Homo sapiens: one gene and its partners. The protein of the gene in region 1 interacts with the protein of each later gene in a biochemical or structural test. Each region holds a gene or a part of one and is shown in the gene's direction. Other genes may lie near its edges.

Region 1 (8,194 bases):
GGCTTGTTCCAGGGTTGGCAAGAAAGCGGGAGTGGCTGGAATAGAATAAGCAAGAGAGATGAGAAGTAGGAGGTAAAGGTGGAAAGATAGGCAGGAAACCAGACTGTGTTGTCTTGAAGGCTGTAGTAAGAAATGTGGATTTTATTCTGGGTGTGGTGTGAAGACATTAGGTTTTGAGCAGATAGTGACATGATCTGACTTGTGTTTTTGAAAAGATTATTAGCTGCTGTGTAGAGAACAGATTTAGGGCAAGGAAGGGAAAAAGAGACCACTTGGGAGCCTTCTGCAGAGGTCTAAGTGAGATGTGATGGTGGCTTTCAATAGGGAAAAGGCTGGATTTGAGATGGAATTTGAATAGGACCTAAATACAGGAGAGTAATTTCAGGTACATTCTTATTTTATTTTTTCTTTCAGTCCATAAAAGAATTCCAATCAGAAGAATATCTTCAGATTATTACAGAAGAAGAGGCATTGAAGATAAAGGAGAATGATAGATCACTTTATATCTGTGACCCTTTTAGTGGCGTTGTCTTTGATCACCTCAAAAAGGTTTGCTGACTTCTAGTGTGTACCTTTGGTAGTCTATTTTTTGGTTTATCTTTGCTTTAATGGACATACATTCTTTGCGGATTATAAAGTACTATGCAACTTATGAGTACATTGGAATTCTTTTGGTTTGGCAAGACCAGGATTGAAAGGCTAATTATGTTACAGTAGGCTTTTTTTGTTTGTTTGTTTGTTTTTGTTTTTGTTTTTTGGAGACAGAGTCTTGTTCTGTTGCCCAGGCTTTAGTGCAGTGGCACAAGCTCAGCCCACTGCAACTTCTGCTTCCTTGGTTCAAGTGATTCTTGTGCCTTAGCCTCCTGAGTAGCTGGGATTACAGATGTATATACACACCCGGCTGATTTTTTTATTTTTAGTAGAGAAAGGGTTTCTCGATGTTGGCCAGGCTGGGCTGGTCTTGAACTCCTGCACTCAAGTGATCCTCCCACCTCAGCCTCCCAAAATATTGGGCTTATAGATGTAAGCAGTAAGGCAGTTTTCAGTGAAAGGGGCTTTTGAAGTTTATTTCTTTTCTTTTCTTTTTTTTTTTCTTTTGTTATAGGGTCTCACTCTGTCGCCCAGGCTGGAGTGCAGTGACGTGATCTCAGCTCACTGCAACCTCCGCCTCCTGGGTTCAAGCAATTCTCTTGCCTCAGCCTCCCTAGAGACTGGGACTGCAGGTGCCCGCCACTGCACCCGACTAATTTTTGTATTTTTAGTAGAGACGGGGTTTCACCATGTTGGCCAGGCTGGTCTCGAACTCCTGACCTCAGGTGATCCACCCCCGCTCGGCCTCCTCTGAAGTGCTGGCATTACAGGCGTGAGCCACTGTGCCTGGCCTGAAGTTTATTTCTTTTGATAGCTTGCATTGTTTGATTTGCTTTTGTGTGTGAGTGTTTAATGTATAGTATCTCTGAGAAATTATATAGTCATCTTTATTTTTTTCTTGTAATGATTTGCTGATTTCTCTACAGTGGTCATCAACTTTGGTAAAGAATTGGTGAATGTTACAAAATGTAATTTTGTAAGACTGGTGGTCTTTTCCTTCTTAACTCATTTAAACTTTTCTCTTTTTTGTAGCTTGGCTGCAGAATTGTTGGTCCTCAAGTAGTCATATTTTGTATGCACCACCAGCGATGTGTCCCAAGAGCCGAACATCCAGTTTATAATATGGTTATGTCTGATGTAACCATATCTTGTACAAGTCTGGAAAAAGAAAAAAGGGTAGATATTGATCTCATGATGATTGATCAATTTATATATCTATCTCTTATTCTTAATTTTTCACTGCATAGAAGATAGCTTAAAAGACTTTCCGCTTATTGTTCGTGACTTTTAACAAAGTTCAGTATACAACCACAGTGTGTATATATGTATACATGTACATTTTTTAAGTAAATTGAATATAGTAGAATTTGTTTTGTTGAAAACTGGCTAATTGAAATTTTTTGTTTTAATTTAAAAGGACACTCATTTTTTAATCACTTACATTTTTCCACTATAGGTGGACAGTCTTTAAAAAAAAGGATTCTAAATCGTTTGAATCAGGGAGGTGGAGGTTGCAGTGAGCCAACATCACGCCACTGCACTGCAGCCTGGGTGACAGAGCAAGATTTCGTTTTGGAAAAAAAAAAAAAAAAGCATTCTAAGAGAGAGCTATAGAAATACATATATATATTTGGGACAGGGTCTTACTGTCACCCACGCTGGAGTGCAGTGGCACAATCACAACTCACTGCAACCTTGATTTCCTGGGCTCAAGTAATCTTCATGCCTCAGCCTCCCGAGTAGCTGGAATTACAGGCATGCACCACCAAGCCTGGCTAAAAATAAATATTTATATATTATATAGATATAATTTATGTTGTTAAAAATACACATGTATATTTATATAGAAGCAAAGATTAAGATTTATACATCCTTTGTATAATAGTTTAATACATTCATGGAGTTGAAAGGGATAAATATAGGAAAATAATATTTTAAAAATATAATTCATACTTATCTCCCAAAAAATAATTTGGTTAATTATTTAACTTTATAATGTTATGTAACACTTATGTATTCAAACTGTCAACAGCAAAATGTATTTATGAGATAGTGTATAAAAGTGGAAGCAATATTGTTTGCTTCAGCATTAATGTGTTCTCTTTTGGGGCTGCAGGAAGAAGTTCATAAATATGTACAAATGATGGGCGGACGAGTATACAGAGACCTTAATGTATCAGTAACTCACCTTATTGCAGGAGAAGTTGGTAGCAAAAAATATTTAGTTGCTGCAAACCTGAAGAAACCTATTTTGCTTCCCTCTTGGATAAAAACACTTTGGGAGAAGTCACAAGAGAAGTAAGAAAGACATTTTTATATTTTCTAGATTTGAAAAAATGATGCATTCAATCATTTTTGGCATGTGATATACTCTTTGGACTTACTATTCAGGGAAAAAAATAGTGTCATTACTCTTTTCTCCAGCGAAAACGGAAGAGCAGAATCTACAAGCTCTTATTACCAAGATATAAGTTGACAGGCATAGAATGGGCCAAGGGTTTAGCATTAGCTACAGAGTAGGAAATGCTTTGGTGATAAAGTTCTCAGCTGTAAATATTTCTGAAATAATTGAGAAAACGAGTTTGGCAATTCTGTAGCTTTTATGTTGCATTATCCTTCAACACCATTCCCATATGTTAAGATAGATAATAAATTAGTCATTTTGGCAGTTGCATTCCTTCCAAAAGATGGCATATGTAAGGTTGAATATAAACATATGCAAGTCATCAGCTGAGATGTGATCATTTAATAAATGCTAATTGAGCCCATTTTACGTATCTGACTTGAGGTAGGCATTAGGTATATGTAGTAAGCAAAACAAGATAGTCACTTCCCTCATGGAGCTTAGAGCCTATTTCAAGGGGCACACTTCAGTTTCCCCTGCAACTAGATAAACAACCACAAGACCAAACACCACAGAATTGTATTGGCATACGAATTATATCGGCACTTTTCTGGGCTTGTTTTCAACACCATCCAGCATATCCCAAATATGTCTCCATGTCAGCAACTCTCATTCCCAATGTGATTACTTCATCAGCACACCTCCCTAGCATGGCAACAGAATAATGATATTTTTGTTGGTATTTTGCCAAAAATCATTGCTTTTACTTGTATAGAATAATGGAAAGATTAAAAAGTTCATTTATCTAATAGGCAACCAAATTACCTTTGGGTTTTTAAGTAGAGATTCAGACTTATCATTTTGGAAAATATACTATGACCAGCAAGGGCTAGAGTTAAGGAAATATATATTTTTCCCTTAAAATGGTTTTGAGAGACTGTATCTGAAACAATTACTTTGTTTTAGAGACATGTTATTGAACTAGGTGAACAATTAGTGTAATTCTGTTTTGGTGGTTCTCCTTTGTAAAAAAAAGATTATAAATCCTAAAAAATGAGGGAAGCAATAGTGATATTTGTGTTGTTTTTCATTATTCTTCTGGTAAATTTAATATGTTCTTTTTTAACCATTTGATTCCCACAGAAAAATAACTAGATATACTGATATAAACATGGAAGATTTCAAGTGTCCTATTTTTCTTGGTTGCATAATCTGTGTGACTGGCTTATGTGGCTTAGACAGGAAAGAAGTTCAGCAACTCACAGTTAAGCATGGAGGTCAATACATGGGACAATTGAAAATGAATGAATGTACACACCTCATTGTGCAAGAACCAAAAGGTAAAACTGTGTTTCACAAAGGGACAAATGAAACATTTTCTCTAGTATTTAATATTTTATTTTTATTTATTTATTTATTTATTTTGAGACAGAGTCTTGCTCTATTGCCCAGGCTGGAGGGCAGTGGCACAATCTCAGCTCACTGCAACCTCTGCCTCCCTTGATCAAGCGATTCTCCCAACTCAGCTTCCCGAGTAGCGGGATTACAGGCACCTGCCACCACGCCTGAATAACTTTTTATTTTTAGTAGAGACGGGCTTTCACCATGTTGGCCAGACTGGTCTCTAACTGACCTCAATTGATCTTCCCACCTCAACCTCCCAAAGTCCTGGGATTACAGGCATGAGCCACCGTGCCCAGCCACTAATATTTAATATTTTAAAATCTTTACAGAACAGCTTTTACTTCTGACATGTCATTAATCTAGTTTGATACTGTTTTCTCTAACATCTTGCAAAGATGTTTTCTCTAACATCTTGCAAAGTTTTAACTGGAAGACACACCTTGCGGCACATGAGGCAGTAAAAAATGAAAAAGACATTACGAACAAGAAAAATTCTTTAAAATTGCTATTAAGTTTGGTGTTACATAACATTATTCTGGATAATTTTTTATCAGCACTCTTAAAATATACACAAATTGATAAAAGATGAGTTTTGTTAATGTTTTTATTATTGCCCTTTATATGTATACTGTGTTTTACTAAGCTATCTAGATTGAGAAGAAATTACGATTAAATGGTAATTGTCCTTAAGTCAGAACTTTGAGTATGGCTGATTGTGATAGGATCACTGTGAGTAGAGTTGATACTGCTGTTCTTTTTCTGAATCTGAAGACAGTTCATTGTTGATTCTCTCAAGAATGCCAAAAAACCTTTCATGTGACATATTGACCTCAATTCCTCTGTGATACTGCTTCAAAATACATTGTGTTGAAGATTTTTAAGGTAATAAAAGATACATATTTTCAATATAATTTATCTTTTGGCTTATCTATCCTGGACTTTAAGTAGAAGCCTGTTGACATTGGAATAGTCTGTTCAAAGTTGGGATTTATTATATAGCACAAATTTACAATTTTCACATTGTACAAGCTGGTTTAAAGAAATTAAGTGATGGAGCCTATATGCAAACCCAAGTCCAATATTAATTAAGTTACCCCACAGTTGCTTCTGTCTTCCTGCAGTTTGTATAAAAGATAAAACCTCTCACATGGCATATGTATTTATACTACACATAGAAAATATAATTAGGCAATAAGCTAAAATACTACTTTGTAATAAACTGTGTAGCATACTGTTTAAGAGTAAGTACTGGTAACTTTAATTTTGTTGATAGGTTTTTGAAATAACCTGTTATAGCCGGGCGCGGTTGCTCACGCTTGTAATCCCAGCATTTTGGGAGGCCAAGGCAGGCGAATCACCTGAGGTCAGGAGTTTGAGACCAGCCTAGCCAACATGGTGAAACCCCGTGTCTACTAAAAATACAAAAAAATTAGCCAGACATGGTGGCACACGTCTGTAATCCTAGCTATTCAGGAGGCTGAGGCAGGAGAATCGCTTGATCAGGAGGGAGGTGGAGGTTGCAGTGAGCCAAGATCTCACCACTGTACTCCAGCCTGGGCAACAGAGTGAGACTCCATCTCAAAAAAAAAAAAAAAATATTAACCTGTTATAATTTGAATATTTCTGCAAAGATAGATTGTAATGGTTTTCATTTCTTGGTTTCTCCTATTTTCTCTATTTCTTTCTTAATGAACGCCACAGGTCAGAAGTATGAGTGTGCCAAGAGATGGAATGTACACTGTGTGACCACACAGTGGTTTTTTGACAGTATTGAGAAAGGTTTTTGTCAGGATGAATCCATATACAAGACAGAACCTAGACCAGAAGCAAAGACTATGCCCAATTCTTCAACTCCTACCAGCCAGATCAACACAATTGATAGTGAGTCTCATTGAGATTAAAATAATTATTCTGAAGACAGTCATATTTCTATGTAATAATCAGTATGTTAATAGGATCACTGAGATAGGGAATTTCTTTTTCTTGTTTGCTGTGCTTCTAGGCATAATTGTATAATAGTCAAATTGTATAAAAAGTTAGCACTGAACTGTTCGTAATTTTCTTTTAGAATGAATGAATGCTGTCTTTTATACTCTGTTGTAATGCAAAAGATGATCAAAGAAATTAAGAACAATGGTAGCTGGGGGCTTAAGATAAAAGTATTAATCTTTTAAACATTACATGCATATATTAATCTTTCCTTAATTTACAGTTTTGCTGCAGTTATAGATCATCTGTATTTGTATAAAAATTAAAACCATTTCTATTTTGTAGGTGTCGTGTTGGCAAAATGTTTAAAATATTTTTTCAAATGTAAGCTTCTTGGACCTTAAAGTCAGCAACTTCAGATTTTTATGGGAAACAAGACACTATTAAGAAAATGTGTTAAATCTATTTTCATTTAAATAAGATAGGAGGCTTAATTAATTTCATTTTCCCTTTTTATACTTTGCCACTAAGATTTCAGTAAACACCCCTGAATCTTACTTTGGAAGTTGTTTATTGCCCTATATTTGTAAGAAAAGTTAATCCATAGACAATATGTAATCATGATTATTTTATCTCCCATAAATTTATACGTTTTCAAAATATGTAGGTCGTACTCTTTCAGATGTCAGCAATATTTCCAACATAAATGCAAGTTGCGTAAGTGAATCAATATGTAATTCACTTAACAGCAAACTGGAGCCTACACTTGAAAATCTAGAAAATCTGGATGTCAGTGCATTTCAAGCACCTGAAGATTTATTAGATGGTTGTCGGGTACGTCTTTATTATATAATACATGCAGTAGATGATATACATTAGCATTTCCTAGCCTGACTTTGAAGACCCTTCAGAGTTGGGCTTGCTCCTTACTATCTATGTAAACCCTCCACTCTAGCTAAGTAGATGCACTTACTAGACCATGTCCATCCTTTGGCTGCGAGAGTCCCTCTGCCTGCAAGGTATCTTCCTCTGTTATCTTTTAAAAGTTCATTTCAGGTTTTAACTCTTCTCTGAACCCTCCTAACTACATTAATCTTTTCATCTGCTATATTTCGAGAGCACTTAGTTTCTGAACAACTTATTGGATTTTTTTTTTTTAATTTTTTTGAGTTAGGGTCTCACTCTGTTGCCCAGGCTGGGATGCAGTGGCACAATCATAACTTCCTGTAACCTTGAACTCCTGGGCATCAGCCACCCCTCAGTCTCCCGAGCAGTTAGAACTACAGGCATGTGCCACTACACCTGGCTAATTTTTAAAATTTTTTTGTAGAGACAAGGTCTCACTATGTTGCCCAGGTTTGGACTTTAAACTATCATCCAAGTGTTTACAGTGTATTAGACACTGTGCTAATCATTTTATGTGTGTTAATATATATATAAAATCGCATTTAAGTCCCACAAATAACTCTAAAATGGATATTATCTTGAGGGTAAGACTTAGAGAATTAAAATTCTTGTTCAGAGTCACACAGAGAGACATTAAGTGGCCAGTTATCTACTCCAAAGTCTGTATTCCTCACCATTAGAGCCACTGCTTTGTTTGGTATTTCTTGGGTTATTTAGTTTTTTAGTATATGAATAACTGTCTTATAAGTTTGTTGATGGAAACAGCATATGCTATACTTTTTCCGCTGTCTTAGATTGGAATACTTAATGTATTCCTATTTGTAGAATGACTTGGCTGTGCACTAATTTTCACAGAGTAGCAAAAATTTAACCCTACCTTATTGTTAAGAAGGGAAATTGGAGCTGGGCTTGGTGGCTCATGCCTGTAATCCCAGCACTTTTGGGAGGCCAAGGTGGGCAGATACCTGAGGTCAGGAGTTGGAGACCAGCCTGGCCAACATGGTGAAACCCTGTCTCTAC
Region 2 (8,586 bases), on another chromosome or scaffold:
CCAGGCTGGTGTGCAGTGGTGCAGTCTTGGCTCACTGCAACCTCCGCTGCCCAGGTTCAAGCGATTCTCATGCCTCAGCCACCCAAGCAGCTGGGATTACAGGCATGAGCCACCATGCCTGGCTAATTTTTATATTTTTAGTAAAGACAGGGTTTCACCATGTTGGCCAGGCTGGTCTCAAACTCCTGGCCTCAAGTGATCCACTGGCCTCAGCCTCCCAAAGTGTTGGGATTACAGACATGAGCCACTGTGCCTGGCCCAGTTCATATATCTAACTGCATACACACCTGGCATCTCCGCTTGGAGGTCCATTAGGTATCTTCAAGCTAACATGGGTTAACTAGAACCTTTGATATTCTGCACCCTCCTTCCCATCACTTCCTCACTGAGTCTTCTCCACCCTTCATTCCATTTTCAGCCCTAAGCCTAGAAGTCATTATTCTGTTCCACAATCTGTTTGCAAGTTATGTCACCTCCACATTCAAAATATTATATATCCAGAATTCAACAACGGTTCACCATATCCATCACTTGTACCAAGGCCACCATCATAAGCAGACCAGCGGTTTCCACATTTATTTGGTATTTTCCCTGATGAAGACAGAATTATACTTTATGTAATTTGAAATATATAGAAATAGAAGCTGACCCTGCACCCCTAATATATGTATATTTACTAACTGGCAAATTATATGCAGATACCTACTAATATGTATTATAAAACATAAAATAGAAATTTATAAAGGATGACATAAAGAGAAAATAGGCAGTTTTTAAATGTCTTACTAATTGTGATAGCTTCATATGATCATTTTACCTAACATCTCAAGGCACAATATACACTTAGGTAAGGTTTGTGATTAACTATAATAAAAACACGCATTTCAAGTAGGCTTTTTATTTATTCCACATTTCACTTGGACACAAGTGTAAGATTTGATCAAATTGTCTTTTTTAATCTCAAAGTGTGGCTAAAAAAGATCTCATACTAGGAAAACAAGAATGTCAGATCCACCATTTTCATGTGATTTGCTTGTGATTGTATTGTTAATATTAATAATACAACTTCCAACATACGACTTCTTAGCAGGAATCTTGTAAAGCCACTTTTTCTTTTTCTTTTTTTTTTTCTTCTTCTTCTTTTTTTTTTTTTTTTGAGATGGAGTTTCGCTCTTGTTGCCCAGGCTGGAGTGTAATGGTGCGATCTTGGCTCACCACAACCTCCGCCTCGCAAGTTCAAGCAATTCTCCTGCCTCAGTCTCCTGAGTAGCTGGGATTACAGGCATGCGCCACCACGCCCAGCTAATTTTGTATTTTTAGTAGAGATGGAGTTTCTCCATGTTGGTCAGGCTGGTCTCGAACTCCCAACCTCAGGTGATCCGCCTGCCTCAGCCTCCCAAAGTGCTGGAATTACAGGCGTGAGCCACCGCACCCGGCCACACTTGTTCATTTTTTGAGACTCGTTTTAGTTAAAACTCAATTGGATAATCCTTCAATCCATTTAATCAGATTAATGAAAAATGCAGTAGTCACAAAACACTGGTACCCAATGAATGAGTGCATTGTCAGATAAAAAATAAGAGAAACGGAAGTTCAATATTTTCTTCCTGCACCCAGTGGGTTGATTGCCTTGGGCACTTCTTTGTGTGTTAGCTCTTCCCTTTGGAAAACAGTCCCCAACATGGTCTGCAGCATGTCCTCACAGGTCTCACTGCTTCATTCTTGCCCCTACATATTCAATTTTCCACCTAGTAGCCAGAGCGCTCTTCTCCAAACACAAATCATATCAAGTCCCTCCCGTCCTCAAAACCTTCCCCTGGCTTCCTAACATTCTCAGTAGAATATCCAAGCTACCTCTGTGGTCTCCAGAGCCTCTCACTGGCCCCACTGCCTCCCTGGCCTTTCTCTCATCCCACCACCTGCTCACCACCACCCAGCCCCACTGCCCCACTGCCCTCCTTCCATTCCTCAAACTCTCTATGTTCCTTCCTGTCTGGGTGTTTCAAAGATGCCCCAATCACTTTTCCTCCCTGCTCTTTCCTGTCCCTATCTCACCCGCCATTGTTAAACTCCTGCTTACCCCTAAAATCTCAGTTTAAATCTCACTGCGTTAGGTTGTTGCTTATCCCTTAACACCTCAAGGCACAATATACATTTCAGTAAGGTTTGTGATGCAATATGTCACAAAATGCAATATGTGAATACATTAAAGTTTAAACAAAAATCTTAACCAGCTCACCCATTGTAGTCCCTTATCCTATGCTTCACTTTCCCCTTAAAATTCTTTTCAGACCGGGTGGTGGCTCATGCCTGTAATCCCAGCACTTTGGGAGGCTGAGGTGGGTGGATCACCTGAGGCCAGGAGTTCCAGACCAGCCTGGCCAACATGGCGAAACCCCATCTCTACCAAAAGTACAAAAAATTAGTGGGGTATGGTGGTGGGCACCTGTATTCCCAGCTACTCGGGAGACTGAGGCAAGAGAATTGCTTGAACCCGGGAGGTGGAGGCTGCAGTGAGCCAAGATCACGCTGTTGCACTCCAGCCTGGGCAACAAGAGCAAAACTCCGTCTCAAAAAACAAAACAAAACAAAACAAAAAAACCTCTTTTCGGAAAAAAAATTTTTTTCATATTATGTTCATCTGTATTATTATCTGTCTAATGTCTGATCCCCTACCTATTAGACTGGAAATTCCATTAGGGCAGGAATGGTGCCTGGTATATAGTAAGTGTTGTTGGATGAGTGAAATGAATGACTGGCATAAGGATGAAAGGTGTTATGAGCTGAGCTGTGTCCTCCCAAAAAGATATGTTGAGGTCCTGGCTGGGTGCAGTGGCTCACTTCTGTAATCCTAGCACTTTGGGAGGCCGAGGCAGGTGGATCACGAGGTCAGGAGATCGAGACCATCCTGGCTAACATGGTGAAACCCTGTCTCTACTAAAAATACAAAAAAAAAAAAATAGTCGGGTGTGGTGGCTGGCGCCTGTAGTCCCAGCTACTTGGGAGGCTGAGGCAGGAGAATGGCGGGAACCCAGGAGGTGGAGCTTGCAGTGAGCCAAGATCGCGCCACCGCACTCCAGCCTGGACGACAGAGCGAGACTCCATCTCAAAAAAAAAAAAAAAAAAGATATGTTAAGGTCCTCCTATCCCCCAGCATCCCCCAGAATGTGATCTTATTTGAAAATAGGGTCTTGTAGAAGTAAGCAAGTTAAAATAAAGTCATTAGGGTGGGCCCTAATCCAACATGACTGGTGTCCTTATAAAAGGGAAGTTTGGACACAGAGACAGCCATGCACAGAGGGAAGATGACGGGAAGACACACAGGAAGAACACCAAGAATTGCCAGCAAACATCAGAAACTAGAAGAGTCAAAGGATGATTCTCCCCTAGAGCCATGGGGGCTGGAGGGGAGCAAGTGCATGCCAACACTTTGATTTTGGACATCAAGCCTTCAGAACTGTGAGGCAATTTTTGGGTTTGATCCTTTGTTATGGCAGGCAGCCCTAGAAAACTCAACCAAAAGAGAAAATTGTTGTACATGAGGCAGTAATTGCTGAGGACTTTGATTGGAGAAGCCAAGGCACATAAAGGAAGTTGTAGCCAAAGCATATAAAGGAAGTTGTTCTGTTTCCAGGTGGAAACAGAATTACTTAGCAAGCAGAATTCAATGGTGTGGAGTATTGGATCAATCTCCCTAAACACATATTCAGGTAACCGACCTTCATTTTTTGTCCCCTTCTTCTTTCCAAATACCATATTCCACTGATCCTAGAGGCACATCTCACATCTCTGAAATCAGCCTGTTCACTGGTGTCCAGCAAGAGGAAGTGTAAAAAAGTTTCAAAAAAAATCACATGGAGAGACCATCACAGACAACTTCCGGTACACAATATTATATTAACAGTTTAAAAATATGCATATAAATGCATTTCTATCTATATATAACTTCTATCTATGATTATCTATCTATATATAATTCCTTTTTTTTTTGTTTTGTTTTTTTTTTTTTAGTAGAGACAGGGTTTCACTGTGTTAGCCAGGATGGTCTCGATCTCCTGACCTGGTGATTCGCCCGCCTCGGCCTCCCAAAGTGCTGGGATTACAGGCGTGAGCCACCGTGCCCGGCCTATCTATATATAATTCTATGTATTCTATCTATATAGCGATATATAATTTCTATCTGTAATGCAAATCTACATGTGATTTCTATCTATATATACATGTAGATAGAAAATTTAGGGAATTCACTGCAGGTGCTGCTTGCAGTCCACTTTTAAAACCTAACATTACATAATAAAACACTATTTTAAGAAGCTGCACTAGGCCGGGCTTGGTGGCTCACGCCTGTAATCCCAGCACTTTGGGAGGCCAAGTCGGGTGGATCACAAGGTCAGGAGTTTGAGACCAGCCTGGCCAACATGGTGAAACTCCGTCTTTACTAAAAATACAAAAATTAGTCTGGGGTGGTGGCGTGCGCCTGTAGTCCTATTCAGGAGGCTGAGGCAGGAGGATCGCTTGAACCCGGGAGGTGGAGGTTGCAGTGAGCCAAGATCGTGTCAATGCACTCCAGCCTAGGAGACAGAGCGAGACTCCGTTTCAAAAAAAAAAAAAAAAAAAAAAAAAAAAAAAAAGGAGCTGCACGATGCTCCCCTTGGGCGTGTACCATACCTTATTTAACCATTCCCAAACTGTTTCCATTTTTTCTGATGTTAAATAAACTCTAAGATGTACAGACGTCTTTTATCTGGCTCTCCGATTACCTTCTGCAGATAAACTCCTAGAAGTTACTGGGGCAAAGGGAGTGAACCTTTAATTTTTAATAAAATTTTTTAAATTACAGAAAAAGCCGTAGTCGTCAGATTCTACTTCCTAGGCGGTCCACAGGGATTTCAACAAGTTCGATTCAAACCATCCCAAATTCCCTCCCGGCACTAAGTTTTCCTCGGTCTTGGGAAACGTGGCCCCGCAGTCCGCACTCACGACTGCGCACAAACGCTGGCCTCTTTCCAATGGCGAAACTTCTCGACACGCCCCCGAGGCACCACCTCTTTAAAATTTAAAACGAAGGCCCAGGCCAATGAATGCTAAGCTTCTCTCGGACCACAGAGACCCGCCCACCGTCACTCCCTCCACCAATCAGACTGAAGTTTTCTCCACTGCCCCTCCAATCACCGCCAAAAATGGAAGTTGCTCTCGTAACTTACGTAAGGCAAGCAGCCAATAGGAGCAAACCTTGGAAACTAGCTCCCCCAATAGCAGCAGTTCCTGGAGAGCGCGGGAGCCTTTCGACCAGGGTCCCAAAGGAAAGCAGTGAGTGGTGCTGTTTCCCTGAAGGAAGGGACTAAGGGACGGTGGCGCGGGCCCGGACCGGGGCCCCGGGGCGGCGGCACGGCCGATATGGCATGCTGTCACAAAGTAATGCTGCTGCTGGACACCGCGGGCGGCGCCGCCCGCCACAGCCGGGTCCGGCGGGCCGCCCTGCGCCTCCTCACCTATCTGAGTTGCCGATTCGGCCTGGCCAGGGTCCACTGGGCCTTCAAGTTCTTTGACTCGCAGGGGGCGCGGAGCCGGCCGTCCCGCGTGTCTGACTTCCGCGAGCTGGGGTCCCGCTCGTGGGAGGACTTTGAGGAGGAGCTGGAGGCCAGGCTCGAGGATCGCGCCCACCTGCCCGGCCCGGCGCCCAGGGCCACCCACACGCACGGCGCCCTGATGGAGACGCTGCTAGACTACCAGTGGGACCGGCCCGAGATCACGTCGCCCACGAAGCCGATCCTGCGGAGCAGCGGGAGGAGACTGCTGGACGTGGAGAGCGAGGCCAAGGAGGCCGAGGCCGCGCTCGGGGGCTTGGTGAACGCCGTCTTCCTCCTGGCCCCCTGTCCGCACTCGCAGAGGGAGCTGCTGCAGTTCGTGTCTGGGTGCGAGGCCCAGGCCCAGCGCCTGCCGCCCACCCCTAAGCAGGTGATGGAGAAGTTGTTGCCCAAGAGAGTCCGGGAAGTCATGGTCGCCCGAAAAATCACCTTCTACTGGGTGGATACCACCGAATGGTCTAAGGTAAGGAAGGTTACTGTCGTCTCAGATGGCGTGCACGGTGCTTTCCTTGCTAACCAGAACTTGGCAGCGTCCTTAGAACAGCCACAGACCCCGAATGAGACTAATATGACTATGCGTCCCTTCGGAAGGAAACAAATAAATAGGAACAGTTTTCACAACAAAATGGGTAGTTCCTCACTACCTACTGTTTAAGACCCCTCACAATTTGGGCCCTACCTGCCTTCCCAGACTTGATTTTCCTACACACTACATCTACTCTAGCATATTGAAGTCCAGTCCAGAAAATCAACAGGTCTGGACTGCTTGTTTTGTGTTATGTGTGTTGTTCAATCTGCCTGGAATGCCAGTTCTCACTCTTCCAGGCCAGTCTTAACTTCACTTACCCTTTAAGGCTTCTTCTCCCAGTGACAACTGCTCAGTCCAGCGTCTGAATTGCCATACACATTTTGTGTGGCACTTAACCATTTCTCCATATGTTTTGATTATGCACATCTCTCACCCTCCATCTAGTCTAAAAATACCTCAGAGGCAAGCAGCAGGTTTTAACACAATACCCAGGGGTGTGTGTGTATGTGTGTGTGTATATATATATATATATATATATATATATATATATATATACACACACACACATATATATACACATTTATTTATATACATATATATATTTATTTATTATTATTTTTTGAGACAGTGTATGTCGCCCAGGCTGGAATGCAGTGGCTCACTGCAACCTCCACCCCTCCGGGTTCAAGCGATTCTCATGCCTCAGCCTCCCAAGTAGCTGAGACTACAGGCCCACGCCACCATGCCTGGCTAATTTTTTTGTATTTTCAGTGGAGACCAGGTTCCATGCTGCCCAGGCTGGTCTCAAACTCTGGCCTCAGGCAATCCGCCTGCCTTGGCCTCCCGAAGTGCCAGGATTATAGGTGTGAGCCACCACGCCCAGCCACCCAGATGTGTATTAAACGTTGTAGGTGTTCAGTCAGTATTGGCTGACTAAATGAGTACATTCTTGCGTACATTCTTGCAAACTTAAAGTCTTAAATGGCTAATTTGGATTTTTGCTGAGGCGGTGAGGCCCCCTGCTCCTGTTAAGTGCTAGGATAAGTATATACTTTTGCCTTCATCCTTCTCATTGCACTTCATTTAGTCAACAAATGTTCATTGAGAAGCCAGTAACATCTGAGTGCCTACCACACTGTTTGAGCTGCTGGGGACATGGTAACCAAAGCAGGGAACAGATTAAACAGATAAGCAAGTGACAATTTCAAATCATGCTCTGGAGAAAATAAAATGGGGTGAGAGGATGGGAGTAGAAGGTGGTTATTGTATACAGAGTGGTAGTGAGGGAAGGCCTTTTTTTTTTTTTTTTTTTTTTTTTTTGAGACAGAGTCTCGCTTTGTCACCCAGGCTGGAGTGCAGTGGCGTGATCTCGGCTCACTGCAACCTTCACCTCCTGGGTTCAAGCAATTCTCCTGCCTCAGCCTCCCAAGTAGCTGGGATTATAAGCGGGCGCCACCAGGCCTGGCTAATTTTTTTGTATTTTTAGTAGAGACGGAGTTTCACCATGCTACCCACCCTGGTCTCAAACTCCTGAGCTCAGGCAGTCCGCCAACCTCAGCCTCCCAAAGTGCTAGGATTACAGGCATGAGCCACCGTGCCTGGCAGGGAAGGCCTTTTTGAGCAGAGAATTGAATGGTGAAGGAGGAGGAACTCAAAGGTAGGTAAAGAACATTCCAGGTGAGGAGACAAGCAGGTGTAAGGATTTCAGCTGGAAATGAACTTAGTTTGTTTCAGAAACAAAAAGGCAAGGAGTGCTGAGACCTAGTAGGCAAGGGGAGCAGTGTGAGAGAAAGTCAGAAAGCAGGAGAGGCCGATCTGTAGGGCCAAGGTCAAAAATGTGGATTTTGTTCTAATTAATTAATGGGAAGGCTTTGGAATGTGGTTTAACCAAGTGAAAGATGTGATTCCACTTAATGGAAATACATGTCACTAACCCAGGAGTGAGTTAAATTGCAAGATTACAGATGGAAAATGAGCAAGCATTTAAATAATAATATGGTATGTTAAAATTTTCAAAGTGCTTTCACATGCGAAGCCCAAAAAAGGCGTGGCAAATGCAAAATAAGGCAGCAGTGGTTTGTCAAGAAAAGGAAGGGACAAAAAGTGTTTAAGGGGATGGTAAACATTTGATGGGGAAAATGAAATCCTAGATATATTAAAATTTAAGGCAGCCAGTCAAGCCTTAGACACAGTATACAACACATTGCTCAGCTGGAAACAATTGATATCACATCAAAGACTTTCTTCTGGAATTTTATTATGTTAAATACTGGCTAGAAATAAGTTAGATGGGGCTTGATGGATCTTGGAGATTCTTTGTCTCTCTTTTTTTCTCTTTAATCTCTCTCTCTCTTTTTTTTTTTGAATAGCATTGAAATAAGTGGGTTGACTGGATCTTTTTAAAGATCCCTTCCAGGTCTGATGTACCGTCGACTGAGGGGATGGGTCATCTCTGAGGCTTCCCTTCTT
Region 3 (8,194 bases), on another chromosome or scaffold:
AAAAAAGAGAAAAGAAAGAAAATAAAAGAATATAATGGGGTGTCACCAGGCGCCGTGGCTCATGCCTGTATCCCAGCACTTTGGGAGGCCGAGGCGGGTTGATTGCTTGAGCTCTGGAGGTGGAGACTAGCCTGGGCAACATGGTGAAACCCTGTCTCTAACAAAAATACAAAAATTAGCTGGATGTGGTGGTGGTGTGCGCCTGTGGTCCCAGCTGCTTGGAGTTGGGGTGGGGTATTGGGGTGGGAGGATTGCTTGAGCCGAGGAAGCAGAGGTTGCAGTGAGCCAAGATCACACCACTGCACTCCAGCCTGGGTGACAGAGTGAGACCCCATCCCAAAAAAAAAAAAAAGAATGGGAAACCATTGAAGGTTATAAGGAAGGAAGTGACGTGATCTGGAAAAGATTCCTTTGCTCTTTGGAGAATAGATTGTAGAATGAATGTGGAAGTAAGCAGGTTTGGTGAAGGAAGTTTGGCTATGAAGGGAAGGAGGGTGGGATTTGATTGTGTTACGAGCCAAGGGGAAAATCTTTCCCTTTGCCCTCTGAAGATCTGCTGAAAAATCAGCTCACAAAAGGCAGGTTAACTGGAGAAAAGGCATACAAATTTATTAACATGCACATTGGGAGAACCATAAAGTGATTACCCATCTCCCTACAGAGTTCGTGAGTTTATATACCATCTGGCAAAACAGATTATGGGAGGGGTGTCTCACGTGTGTCCATGTGAAGAGACCACCAAACAGGCTTTGTCTGAGCAACAAGGCTGTTTATTTCACCTGGGTGCAGACAGGCTGAGTCTGAAAAAAAGGAGTCAGCAAAGGGTGGTGGAATTATCATTAGTTCTTATAGGTTTTGGGATAGGCATTGGAGTTAAGAGCAATGTTTTGGGGGCAGGGGGTGGATCTCACAAAGTACATTCTCAAGGGTGGGGAGATTATAAAGAACCTTCTTAAGGGTGGGGGGGAGATTACCAAGTACATTGATCAGTTAGCGTGGGGCAGAAACAAATCACAGTGGTGGAATGTGATCAGTTAAGGCTATTTTCACTTCTTTTGTAGATCTTCAGTTGCTTCAGGCCATCTGGATGTATAAGTGCAGGTTACTGAGGATATGATGGCTTAGCTTGGGCTCAGAGGCCTGACAAGGGGTAGAAGAGAAATTCTGTTTTTCTGTTTTTGTAGAGACGGGGTCTTGCTATGTTGCAAGCCTAATCTCGAACTCCTGGGCTCAAGTAATCCTCCTGCCTTGGCCTCCCAAAGTGCTGGGATTACAGGCCTGAGCCAGCATGTCCAGCTCTATTTGTTTTTAAATAAACCGAACTTTGGCCAGAAGGAGATTCTGTTGAAGGGCAATAAAGGATTACTAGAGAGAATGGAATGGGGACAGAGGTTGACTTGTTAATAGTTCTCTTTGGAATTTGAGTGATCCTGAGGTACACAATACCTGTGAAAGGGTTTGTTCAGGTGTGGTTACATGTTAGTCTTATTGGGAGGGGAAGAAAAAACAAGTATTCTTTTTAGTGAGTTTGGACTTTAGGCAGATAAAGAGTTCCAGAGAACAACTTTATCCTGGCTTTGGGAGAGTCTGGGGTGGAAGGATCAGAGAGACCTTGCGGCTTCTTGAGTTCAGCATGTCAGAGGGCCATATTTTGGGGTATTGGTTTCTTTTCTTTTCTTTTTTTTTGAGACAGAGTCTTGCTCTGTCTTTGTTGCCCAGGCTGTGCAGTGGCATGATCTCAGCTCACTGCAAGCTCTGCCTCCTGGGTTCAAGCGAGCACGTCTGGCTAATTTTTTTGGATTTTTAGTAGAGATGGGGTTTCGCCATGTTGGCCAGGCTGGTCTCGAACTCCTGGCCTCAAGTGATCTGCCTGCCTTAGCCTCCCGCAGTGTTGGGATTACAGGCATGAGCCACCGTGCCTGGCCTGGGGTATTAGTTTCTGAGTTCCAACAGTTAGACGGGATTGGAGGAGCAGGACCCTGAAGAGGAGGAGGGTAAGACAGTGCAAATGGAGGTAGATTTGAAGTTGGTTTTTTTTTTTCTGAAGGAGGAGGCAAGCTCTTTTGATGAAAATGAGGTGGTAAAGTCAAAGGTTTGGGGGGAGAGTTTGATACAGAGGCTTAGCAGGGACTGCATTTTATCACAGTATAAGAATGCTGGTCGTGGATTTGAAAGAACAAGTCGCTTAATCTCCATAAACCTCAATTTCCTTATAACTAAGGTGGAGGTGATACTAGTACATACCTCATAGAGTCACCAGGAGATTGAGAGATCCGGTAAAGCTCTTCATGGGGTCTGACATAGAGTAGGCACTCACAAAATATCAACTAATTTTAGCTGTTAGAGAAAAGGCGGCCATTATAACAGTTAGGGAGCAGTGAAAATCAACCAGGCACATTTTCTCATTGTTGATGGTCAGCCACCTATGGTTTACTAGATTAGGAATAAAAATAGCTAATCTCTGTTCTCCCACTGATTTGCCATCTGTTCTCAGACAGATCTTTTGTCCCTCTGATCCTTGGTTTCTTCTAGGATAAAATGAAGGTTTTGGACTTAATGACTACTACAGGCTGTTTCAGTGTAACCATGCTACATCTCTAAGAGGCAGAGAAACCGCCTACCCCCATTCTCCCAGACACACCTAAACAACCCCTATCCACACACACAGTCACAGTAAGCATCAGAGATACACAAATGCTCCCAAACAGGAGGCTTTCATCCTTGACCCATCCCAGCCCTGGCCTCACAGTCTTTGCATGTCTCCAGGGCTGTAACGCCGGCCCCCTTGAGGCCACTTGCTCAGCTATACTAGTTGTATCTCAGTGCTGCAGCCAGCCAAGAGTAAACCCGTGAGCATCTTGAGAGTGCTTGAGAGAAGCTGGACCCCATGTGAATGGTGGATGAGAGGGAGATAGCTATCACCCTTGGAAGGCCTCAAAATTTGGCCTCATTGTGACTGACTGCTTTGGCTGGGTCTTTTTGTTTCAGGCCATCATGAGGAAGCCACGAGCAGCCGTGGGAAGTGGTCACAGGAAGCAGGCAGCCAGCCAGGAAGGGAGGCAGAAGCATGCTAAGAACAACAGTCAGGCCAAGCCTTCTGCCTGTGATGGTAAGGAACTAGGTTGTGGCCCAAGGCTCATTGGCCATGAAAGGCAGATTCAGGCTGGGAAGGGATTGTGATACGTATCAAGACATTAAGAGACTTACTAAGGGCCAGGTGCGGTGGCTCACACCTGTAATCCCAGCACTTTGGGAGGCCGAGGCAGGTGGATCCCTTGAGCCCAGGAGTTTGAGACCAGCTTGGGTAACATGGCGAAATCCCCTCTCTATGCTCGCGTGGTGGTGAGCGTCTGTAGTCCCAGCTACTCGGGAAGCTGAGGTGACAGGATCGCTTGAGCCTGGAAGGCAGAAGTTGCACTGAGTCAAGATAATGCAACTGCATTTCAGTCTGGGCAACAGAGCCAGACTCTTGTCTCAAAACAAAAGAGACTCACTGAGGGTGTAATTCTGACTGTATTGCTGTGTGACATTGGGACAATTGCTCTGAATGGCTGCTTTCTTACCAGTAAAATGGAGCAGTAGTTCAGCATTTCCTCCCTCATGTGGCTTTCATGGGACCAAATGAGTTTATGAGCCTGAAAGTGTTTTGTGAATAGGAAGGTCCTGCACCAGTATACATTCTAGCTGGCTAAAACTATTAGGTTTTCATTATGGCTCAGAGACAAGCCAGTAGTACCACCCTGAGAAAATTAAGGCCAGAAACTTAGCCACAGCTACACACAATTACATAACTCTGGTCTGACTCCAGCTCCAAAGCTTAAGGGGGTTAGTTGGGGGAAGCCCTAAGTGGGAGCATACTGCCACAGGCTGCTGTGTCCCAAGACCCTGATGCACAGCCTGTGCAGGGATGATTGCTGAGTGTCCTGGGGCCCCAGCAGGCCTGGCCAGGCAGCCGGAAGAGGTGGTATTGCAGGCCTCTGTCTCCTCATACCATCTATTCAGAGACGTAGCTGAAGTCACAGCCTTCCGAGGGAGCCTGCTAAGCTGGTACGACCAAGAGAAACGGGACCTACCATGGAGAAGACGGGTAGGCAGGCGAGGAGCAGGGACAGTGGGTGGGAGGCAGGCACCCAGCCCCCTCCACCCTAACTCCTCATCTGGGGTTGCATTGACAGGCAGAAGATGAGATGGACCTGGACAGGCGGGCATATGCTGGTCAGTACATCTCCTGAGAGCAGGGCCACTTTGCCTCGAGGCCCTTGGGTCTGGGGGCTGTGGGCCAGGTAGGGGCAGGTCAGCAGTGTCCTCATGCCAACCCCTTTCCCCCAGTGTGGGTCTCAGAGGTCATGCTGCAGCAGACCCAGGTTGCCACTGTGATCAACTACTATACCGGATGGATGCAGGTGACTCCAGGGGAGGAAGGGAAGGGTCATGGGTCAGACCCCAGATGAGAGCCTCTACTTTGGGGTGGGTGTAGAGAAGGCTTCCTCTACCACCTTCACCCTTGACCTTGTCTCTTTCTGCCTGCCTGTGGCTATAGAAGTGGCCTACACTGCAGGACCTGGCCAGTGCTTCCCTGGAGGTGAGAGCCACCCTAGGGTAGGGGAAATAGGAACAATAGAGGGACTGACGGGTGATCTCTTTGACCTCTGATCCTACCCACAGGAGGTGAATCAACTCTGGGCTGGCCTGGGCTACTATTCTCGTGGCCGGCGGCTGCAGGAGGGAGCTCGGAAGGTAAGGGGATGGCAGGAGGGTAGGAACCCAGGAGTCTTGGGTGTCTTATAATCTTGAGTCTTGCACTCCAATCAGGTGGTAGAGGAGCTAGGGGGCCACATGCCACGTACAGCAGAGACCCTGCAGCAGCTCCTGCCTGGCGTGGGGCGCTACACAGCTGGGGCCATTGCCTCTATCGCCTTTGGCCAGGTGATCTCACAGCCCACCCCCACTTTGTGCGTGCCCAGCCTCCTTCCTCCCAGCCCAGGCTAACTCTTTGGCCCCTCTGTGCCAGGCAACCGGTGTGGTGGATGGCAACGTAGCACGGGTGCTGTGCCGTGTCCGAGCCATTGGTGCTGATCCCAGCAGCACCCTTGTTTCCCAGCAGCTCTGGTAGGATGTTGGGGTAACAAGGGTGCTTCAGGGGTGTCTGCAAAGGAGCTCTGCTTCACAGCAGTGTTCCCTTCTTTTAGGGGTCTAGCCCAGCAGCTGGTGGACCCAGCCCGGCCAGGAGATTTCAACCAAGCAGCCATGGAGCTAGGGGCCACAGTGTGTACCCCACAGCGCCCACTGTGCAGCCAGTGCCCTGTGGAGAGCCTGTGCCGGGCACGCCAGAGAGTAAGCCTACTGGGGAAGGGGCAGTGAGAAGTCCTAAGGAGTGACTCTGCCCTATGACACTCAACCCTGTGCCTCTCAGGTGGAGCAGGAACAGCTCTTAGCCTCAGGGAGCCTGTCGGGCAGTCCTGACGTGGAGGAGTGTGGTGAGCACCAAACCTAGCCCCCACCCCAACCCTTCCTGGCCCAGTCAGAAGCCCCATTCCAGTTCTTCCTCTAACCTGAGTAAGATTCTGCAGAACCCGGCCAAAGCCCACTCTCTAGGTTGGCCCCTAAAGCCCTCTTGGCTTGAGTAGGGTTCGGGGATCTCCGTTCCCAGCTCCCAACACTGGACAGTGCCACCTGTGCCTGCCTCCCTCGGAGCCCTGGGACCAGACCCTGGGAGTGGTCAACTTCCCCAGAAAGGCCAGCCGCAAGCCCCCCAGGGAGGAGAGCTCTGCCACCTGTGTTCTGGAACAGCCTGGGGCCCTTGGGGCCCAAATTCTGCTGGTGCAGAGGCCCAACTCAGGTACCTGGATACTGGGCGTGGAGGGCAGTGGCATGAGTAACAAGAGAGAATGGAGGGAATCGGCAGCTGAGGCCTGACCCCTGCCTGGCTGCCCTCCCTCTCAGGTCTGCTGGCAGGACTGTGGGAGTTCCCGTCCGTGACCTGGGAGCCCTCAGAGCAGCTTCAGCGCAAGGCCCTGCTGCAGGAACTACAGCGTTGGGCTGGGCCCCTCCCAGCCACGCACCTCCGGCACCTTGGGGAGGTAAGTGAGCAGCGGAATAGCCAAGGATGTTGGCTTTTGAGGCTATATCCACAGGCCTATTTGAACCCCTTGACCCTTCCTCCAGGTTGTCCACACCTTCTCTCACATCAAGCTGACATATCAAGTATATGGGCTGGCCTTGGAAGGGCAGACCCCAGTGACCACCGTACCACCAGGTGCTCGCTGGCTGACGCAGGAGGAATTTCACACCGCAGCTGTTTCCACCGCCATGAAAAAGGCACTACCTTTGTTGTCTTTGTTGTACTTCCTTGTGTTTCCTACATGTTCTACATGAATATATTACTGTGTAAACAGGAAAAAAAGCATTTTTTTTTGAGACGGAGAATCGCTCTGTTGCCCAGGCTGGAGTGCAATGGCGCTATCTCGGTTGACTGCAACCTCCATCTCCCGGGTTCAAGTGATTCTCCTGCCTCAGCTTCCTGAGTAGCTCGGATTACAGGCGCCCGCCACCATGCCTGGCTAATTTTTGTATTTTTAGTAGAGATGAGGTTTCACCATGCTGGCCAGGCTGGTCTCCAACTCTTGACCTCAAGTGATCCGCCCGCCTCAGCCTCCCAGAATGCTGGGATTACAGGTGTGAGCTACCACACCCAGCCATGATTTTTTGTATTTTTAGAGATGGGGTTTCACCATGTTGGCCAGGCTGGTCTCAAACTCCTGGCCTCAAGTGATCCACCCGACTTGGCCTCCCAAAATGCTGGGATTATAGGCGTGAGCCACCATGCCTGGCCAAAAAAGCATATTTTAAACAAAAGTACTGGGACATGAAGTTAAGGGCAGAACACCGGTTTATCTCTTTTGCAAAAAGTGCCAGCCCTCACCTCCCTGTCTTCTTGTCTAGGTTTTCCGTGTGTATCAGGGCCAACAGCCAGGGACCTGTATGGTAAGTCTCCTAGGCCTCTCCCAACCGTGTCTCCCCAGGCCTGAGTCCATAGGTTTTTAGTCAGTTAACTAACGAATGTCTGGGTGAACATTCTCCACTCCAGGCTTCACTGGAGGGAGGAATAGTTCTTGACCTGGAGACCTTCCATTGTGGGGTGCAGGGTAGAGGGAAAGGAAAAAAATGATGAGGACTCTCCAGTGTCACAGGTGTGTGAAATGCCTGTACTGAGTTTTGTGGGATATGAATTGTGGAGCCATCAGTTCTTTTTTTTTTTTTTTTTTTTTTTTGAGACAGTCTCACTGTCACCCAAGCTAGAGTGCAGTGGCCCGATCTCGGCTCACTGCAATCTCCCACAACTGGATTAAAGCGATTCTCCTGCCTCAGTCTCCCAAGTAGCTGGGATTACAGGTGCCTGCTACCACACCCAACTAATTTTTGTATTTTTAGTAGAGACAGGGTTTCACCATGTTGACTAGGCTGGTCTCGAACTCCTGACCTCAAGTGATCTGCCCATCTTGGCCTCCCAAAGTGCTGGGATTACAGGCGTGAGCCACCACACCCATCCATGGGAGCTATCAGTTCTAATTGGGAGACGGATCAGGAAAGGCTGTTTGGAGGAAGCAGCTGGTAATCTTCGTCCTAGAAATGAATCCTTTTCTTCAGGTTTGGGAGGGGAATCAACCGTAGCGATGTTCTTTCCAGTCCCAAGAGTAGTGTGAGCAAAGGTGGAGCCCAGTGCAGGCTGCAGTGCTCAAGGAGCTGTGAGCAGTTGGTTTAGCTGGAAAGGTCAGCAGGGCCTGCTGGGTCAGTCAGGGTGTGAGCCCTAGGCTGCTGACTCATTTTAGGTGGAGGAGAGAGGAGTCAGATTTGCATTTTTAGGACAATTCGATTCCCTCAGGCAGCCTTTTGGAGGGTTGATTGATGGGGCAGATACTTGAGGCAGGATGAAAGCTCTACAGCATTCCAGGCTAAGCCTAGCTAGATCAGTAGAGTCGGGGAAAGGGAGAGAGGACAAGGAGAGGATTCTCTGCTCCCCCTCCCCCAACTACAAGGCCTCCCTCCTTCCATTTTTTCACAGGGTTCCAAAAGGTCCCAGGTGTCCTCTCCGTGCAGTCGGAAAAAGCCCCGCATGGGCCAGCAAGTCCTGGATAATTTCTTTCGGTCTCACATCTCCACTGATGCACACAGCCTCAACAGTGCAGCCCAGTGA
Region 4 (4,927 bases), on another chromosome or scaffold:
AGAGCTCGGAGCAAGGTAGCCCCGCCCAGCCAGGACCAGGCCCTACCTGGTGCATCCTCCCAGGGCCCTGCCTCCACTGCGCACTGGGGCCTCCCTCTCCTCCTGCCTCCAGCTAGTCCCACCTGGAGTCACCATGCACTTCAGCTTTGGGACACCTTGGTCTTCGCATGTTCTTGAGTCTCGAGGTCGTTCCTTGGTTGACCATGCTAGCCGTGTGTCTGTGAGCACAGGCACGTCCTTCAAAGCCCTGGAGCTTCTGCTGCTTCCCGGCTTTCAGCACCGTGCAGGGGTGCCTTGCCACCCACGGCAACCCTCCAGTGCCTGCTGGCCGACAGCGCCCACCCCAGCTGGCTAAGCCCCCTACCTGCATCCCGCAAGCAGCAAATACCCAGTTCACAGGCCCCCCCGGGGGCTTTCCTTGGCCAGTGCTGGGGCCATTTACTGTCCCTTCCACATGTTGCCGGCGCCCCTCACGTGCGCTCAGGCAGAGAGGGCTGCCGCCTCCATGCTTGCCCTTTTCTCCGCAGAAATGGAGGTGGAGCCCGCCCGGAAAGGGGAAGAGGAGCAAAAGGAGCAAGAGGAGCAAGAGGAGGAGGGCGCAGGGCCAGCTGAGGTCAAGGAGGAGGGTTCCCAGCTGGAGAACGGAGAGGCCCCCGAGGAGAACGAGAATGAGGAGTCAGCGGGCACAGACTCGGGGCAGGAGCTCGGCTCCGAGGCCCGGGGCCTGCGCTCAGGCACCTACGGCGACCGCACGGAGTCCAAGGCCTACGGCTCCGTCATCCACAAGTGCGAGGTGAGGGAGACTATGGCCAGCCCTCCCAGCCAGCGTCCCTCCCCTCCGGCCTCCCACCGGCTGCTCCTCACACCCCGCTTCCCCGCTGCACCCACAGGACTGTGGGAAGGAGTTCACGCACACGGGGAACTTCAAGCGGCACATCCGCATCCACACGGGGGAGAAGCCCTTCTCGTGCCGGGAGTGCAGCAAGGCCTTTTCCGACCCGGCCGCGTGCAAGGCCCATGAGAAGACGCACAGGTACTGCCCCAAGCCGGCCTCCTACCCCGGCCCCTGCCAGGCCCGGCCTTTCACGCCCCAGCGAGCCCTGCCTCCTGTCGCCTTCTGGCCCTGCAGCCCTCTGAAGCCCTACGGCTGCGAGGAGTGCGGGAAGAGCTACCGCCTCATCAGCCTGCTGAACCTGCACAAGAAGCGGCACTCGGGCGAGGCGCGCTACCGCTGCGAGGACTGCGGCAAGCTCTTCACCACCTCGGGCAACCTCAAGCGCCACCAGCTGGTGCACAGCGGCGAGAAGCCCTACCAGTGCGACTACTGCGGCCGCTCCTTCTCCGACCCCACTTCCAAGATGCGCCACCTGGAGACCCACGACACGGACAAGGAGCACAAGTGCCCACACTGCGACAAGAAGTTCAACCAGGTGTGCGGACCCCTCCCGGAACCAGCGCCTGGCAGCCGCCGGTGGCCGCAGCCGCATGCATGCCACGTGGTGGGGCGGGCGGGGAGCACAGCCCCGGCCTCCAGGAGCTCATCAGCTTGTTCACCCAGGAAACAGGCGCAGCGAGAGCCACTTCCGCGGGGGAGCTCCCGGTTGCTCTGCGGAGGGCAGGCCGACTCAGGGCGGGGTTTGGTCCTGAAAAAATGGGGTGGGGCGGCTTACCTCTCACCGCTGGGACCTGGGACCTCTCCTGACCCAGGAGAGATAGAGCCCTTCACGGACCCTGGCAAGCCTGAGAGTCAATTGTTCCTTTGTGGGAGGGGCAGGTGAGGGGGCCCGGGGCCGAGCTCTGTGGGGTGGCCCCCCTGACCCCTCCCTGGGCACAGGTAGGGAACCTGAAGGCCCACCTGAAGATCCACATCGCTGACGGGCCCCTCAAGTGCCGAGAGTGTGGGAAGCAGTTCACCACCTCAGGTAGGGCCAGGGCTGCCCTGGCTGCCCTCACACCCCTGCTCCTCGGCCACCGGTGGTGCCCCACGCCAGGTTCGCCCTCGGTCTCGCCACAGGGAACCTGAAGCGGCACCTTCGGATCCACAGCGGGGAGAAGCCCTACGTGTGCATCCACTGCCAGCGACAGTTTGCAGACCCCGGCGCTCTGCAGCGGCACGTCCGCATTCACACAGGTGGGTGGTGAGCGGCCATGCCCAGGACTGGGAGGGCACGGAGAGGAGCAGGCACCAACACCTTCTGCCCGGTCCCCAGGTGAGAAGCCATGCCAGTGTGTGATGTGCGGTAAGGCCTTCACCCAGGCCAGCTCCCTCATCGCCCACGTGCGCCAGCACACCGGGGAGAAGCCCTACGTCTGCGAGCGCTGCGGCAAGAGGTCCTGCCCCCTCCCCCACACCCACTGGCCAGACACCCCACAGTGAGGGGGCTCAGAAGACAAACTGGGGGCTTGGCTGGGGACTGAGCTGACTGCTGCCCACGCCCCAGGCTCTGGTCCTAGGGGTCCTTTTCAGTCTAGAGGGTGAGGCAGGAGGCCCAGGTTGGGGCAGTTCCATGCGAGTCCCTTCCTGTGGCCCCACAGATTCGTCCAGTCCAGCCAGTTGGCCAATCATATTCGCCACCACGACAACATCCGCCCACACAAGTGCAGCGTGTGCAGCAAGGCCTTCGTGAACGTGGGGGACCTGTCCAAGCACATCATCATTCACACTGGTGAGCTGTGGCCCCTACCATGCCTGTTCCTTCCCAGGCCCTGCTGCCAGGTGGGGAGCAGGGGGAAGGAAGGGACCCCCCAGACCCCAGCCTCGGGTGCTAGCTCTTGCTGCAGGTGGCCTTGAAGGCAGTTCTGTTCAAATGAGGACCCCATTTTCCTAGAGCTTCCAGAGGTGCCAGTGTCACCAGAGGCACCCGTGCAGCCACCCCAGAGCACCTCCTGCTGTAAAAGACAGGGTTGCTGGGCAAACGAGTCATTGAGGGCCTCCCACCCCATCCCTGCGGCCCCTTCCCACAAAGGCAAGAGAGAACCTTGCTCCCCCAGGAGAGAAGCCTTACCTGTGTGATAAGTGTGGGCGTGGCTTCAACCGGGTAGACAACCTGCGCTCCCACGTGAAGACCGTGCACCAGGGCAAGGCAGGCATCAAGATCCTGGAGCCCGAGGAGGGCAGTGAGGTCAGCGTGGTCACTGTGGATGACATGGTCACGCTGGCTACCGAGGCACTGGCAGCGACAGCCGTCACTCAGCTCACAGGTGCGGGCTGTGGGCAGCAGAGGGAAGTCACAGGCAGCTTGCTGCCAGGGTGGCGATGATGGGGCAGTGCCCGTGCCTTCACCTTAGGCCCTGCGACTCTGCCCGCAGTGGTGCCGGTGGGAGCTGCAGTGACAGCCGATGAGACGGAAGTCCTGAAGGCCGAGATCAGCAAAGCTGTGAAGCAAGTGCAGGAAGAAGGTGAGGGGGGCCACCCGGGTGTGAATGTGGGCAGAGCCCGGGGTCCTTCCCACTCTGACTGCTGCCCCACCTCCACAGACCCCAACACTCACATCCTCTACGCCTGTGACTCCTGTGGGGACAAGTTTCTGGATGCCAACAGCCTGGCTCAGCATGTGCGAATCCACACAGCCCAGGCACTGGTCATGTTCCAGACAGACGCGGACTTCTATCAGCAGTATGGGCCAGGTGGCACGTGGCCTGCCGGGCAGGTGCTGCAGGCTGGGGAGCTGGTCTTCCGCCCTCGCGACGGGGCTGAGGGCCAGCCCGCACTGGCAGAGACCTCCCCTACAGCTCCTGAATGTCCCCCGCCTGCCGAGTGAGCTGGCGGCCCTTCTGACTGTTTATTTAAGGATGGATGGCACCCTGGAACCGGGAAGGGTGGCCTGTTCCCTAGAGAGAATAAATTGGATTATTTTCTAATGCTGCCTATAGGTCCCTGTGGGGTGGGTGGGGAGCTGGCAGCTACAACTGATGCCACAGAAAGGCTGTACCACCCAGGAACCAGCCTTCCTGGGAAGGTCAGCCCGTCCCTCTTGCTGAATGCGACTAGAATCAGAGCCAGGCTGGCTGCTTTGCCCCAAGTTGAGGAGTGGGCAGTACACTCAGGCTGGAGAGACCTCGGCACCACGTGCCCCATGCCCTCATCCCATCTTGTTTGGAGGCTTCTCACCTGTTCATCTTTAGGGCCTGGCCTCCCCTCGCCCCACAGCTATGACCCTGCTCCCCCTCGGCCCAGGTTGGGGAGAGGTTGGGAAGTTGGGGAAGGGACCAGCAGGGGCGGCCACCAACTGCTTACCAGGGTACAGGCAACCCAGAGCGAGCCTGGCTCACAGGCCACTGCTGCCAGGCCTGGCTCAGGGGTCCTTCCAGCCAGAGTGGCAAGGTAGGCCAAGGAGAGTGCCAGGCCCAGGCCACTGCCCTGGCTCTGATGGGCCTAAGGGAGCAGATGGAAGCCACACTTGCTTCAGGGTTACCTGGCCCGAGGACTAAGGCCAAGCCGGTGCCATCATCTTTTGGGAAGGTTCAAAAGATGGCATCTCTGCCACCAGGCTGGGGGCCCAGAGGGACAGGAAGGAGCAGCCAGGGGCTTTGATGGGGAGGTAGGGAGCTGGTGGAACAGCTTTCTCACTCCTGTCAGCAAGGAGTCAGGAGGTACCATCTCGTCCCCCCACAGTGGCCCCGGCATCTATGGCCCACCGTTCAGAGGGGGATGCTATCTTCTCACACCAGGACAGGCCCATTTGTAGGAGCCCATTGGTATTCCAAGTGAGACCACCAACTTTATAGTCCCCATGTCCCTGTCCCAACTCCACAGCTTCTAGAGAATCCAGCTGCAGGGGAAGCCTGTCCCCAACTCCCATTCTCCTGTCTGGAGGCAGAGACGGGATCAAATGAGCCCCCAGGGGCCCCAGGAGGCCACTGCCTCTGCAGGAGTCAGCCTGCTTCACACTGGGAGAAGGGAAGAGGGGGCAAGAGAGAGACAAGA

Evidence for each region.
Region 2: the proteins of TOPBP1 (region 1) and TICRR form a complex in vitro, tested with the Homo sapiens proteins (2 studies listed by BioGRID).
Region 3: the proteins of TOPBP1 (region 1) and MUTYH form a complex in vitro, tested with the Homo sapiens proteins (one study listed by BioGRID).
Region 4: the proteins of TOPBP1 (region 1) and ZBTB17 form a complex in vitro, tested with the Homo sapiens proteins (one study listed by BioGRID).

Annotation. Positions count from the first base shown.
Region 1 is NC_000003.12:133,651,371-133,659,564, reverse strand, and holds part of TOPBP1 (DNA topoisomerase 2-binding protein 1), read left to right. Parts: intron 1-414; coding exon 415-549; intron 550-1,623; coding exon 1,624-1,767; intron 1,768-2,707; coding exon 2,708-2,889; intron 2,890-4,078; coding exon 4,079-4,275; intron 4,276-6,040; coding exon 6,041-6,220; intron 6,221-6,935; coding exon 6,936-7,102; intron 7,103-8,194. UniProt on the Homo sapiens protein: Scaffold protein that acts as a key protein-protein adapter in DNA replication and DNA repair. Composed of multiple BRCT domains, which specifically recognize and bind phosphorylated proteins, bringing proteins together into functional combinations.
Region 2 is NC_000015.10:89,570,190-89,578,775, forward strand, and holds the start of TICRR (treslin), read left to right. Parts: upstream 1-5,279; 5' UTR 5,280-5,397; coding exon 5,398-6,051; intron 6,052-8,586.
Region 3 is NC_000001.11:45,329,306-45,337,499, reverse strand, and holds part of MUTYH (adenine DNA glycosylase), read left to right. Parts: intron 1-2,532; exon of another isoform or gene 2,533-2,673; intron 2,674-2,988; coding exon of another isoform or gene 2,989-2,994; coding exon 2,995-3,109; intron 3,110-3,866; exon of another isoform or gene 3,867-3,896; coding exon of another isoform or gene 3,897-3,938; coding exon 3,939-4,087; intron 4,088-4,175; coding exon 4,176-4,215; intron 4,216-4,329; coding exon 4,330-4,403; intron 4,404-4,540; coding exon 4,541-4,582; intron 4,583-4,665; coding exon 4,666-4,737; intron 4,738-4,812; coding exon 4,813-4,926; intron 4,927-5,011; coding exon 5,012-5,109; intron 5,110-5,189; coding exon 5,190-5,334; intron 5,335-5,413; coding exon 5,414-5,477; intron 5,478-5,650; coding exon 5,651-5,839; intron 5,840-5,943; coding exon 5,944-6,080; intron 6,081-6,165; coding exon 6,166-6,318; intron 6,319-6,942; coding exon 6,943-6,984; intron 6,985-7,431; coding exon of another isoform or gene 7,432-7,434; exon of another isoform or gene 7,435-7,611; intron 7,612-8,062; coding exon 8,063-8,194. UniProt on the Homo sapiens protein: Involved in oxidative DNA damage repair. Initiates repair of A*oxoG to C*G by removing the inappropriately paired adenine base from the DNA backbone. Possesses both adenine and 2-OH-A DNA glycosylase activities.
Region 4 is NC_000001.11:15,940,803-15,945,729, reverse strand, and holds the end of ZBTB17 (zinc finger and BTB domain-containing protein 17), read left to right. Parts: coding exon 1-15; intron 16-527; coding exon 528-793; intron 794-890; coding exon 891-1,033; intron 1,034-1,129; coding exon 1,130-1,430; intron 1,431-1,834; coding exon 1,835-1,922; intron 1,923-2,014; coding exon 2,015-2,131; intron 2,132-2,210; coding exon 2,211-2,331; intron 2,332-2,535; coding exon 2,536-2,666; intron 2,667-2,991; coding exon 2,992-3,201; intron 3,202-3,288; coding exon of another isoform or gene 3,289-3,309; coding exon 3,310-3,399; intron 3,400-3,477; coding exon 3,478-3,761; 3' UTR 3,762-3,861; downstream 3,862-4,927. UniProt on the Homo sapiens protein: Transcription factor that can function as an activator or repressor depending on its binding partners, and by targeting negative regulators of cell cycle progression.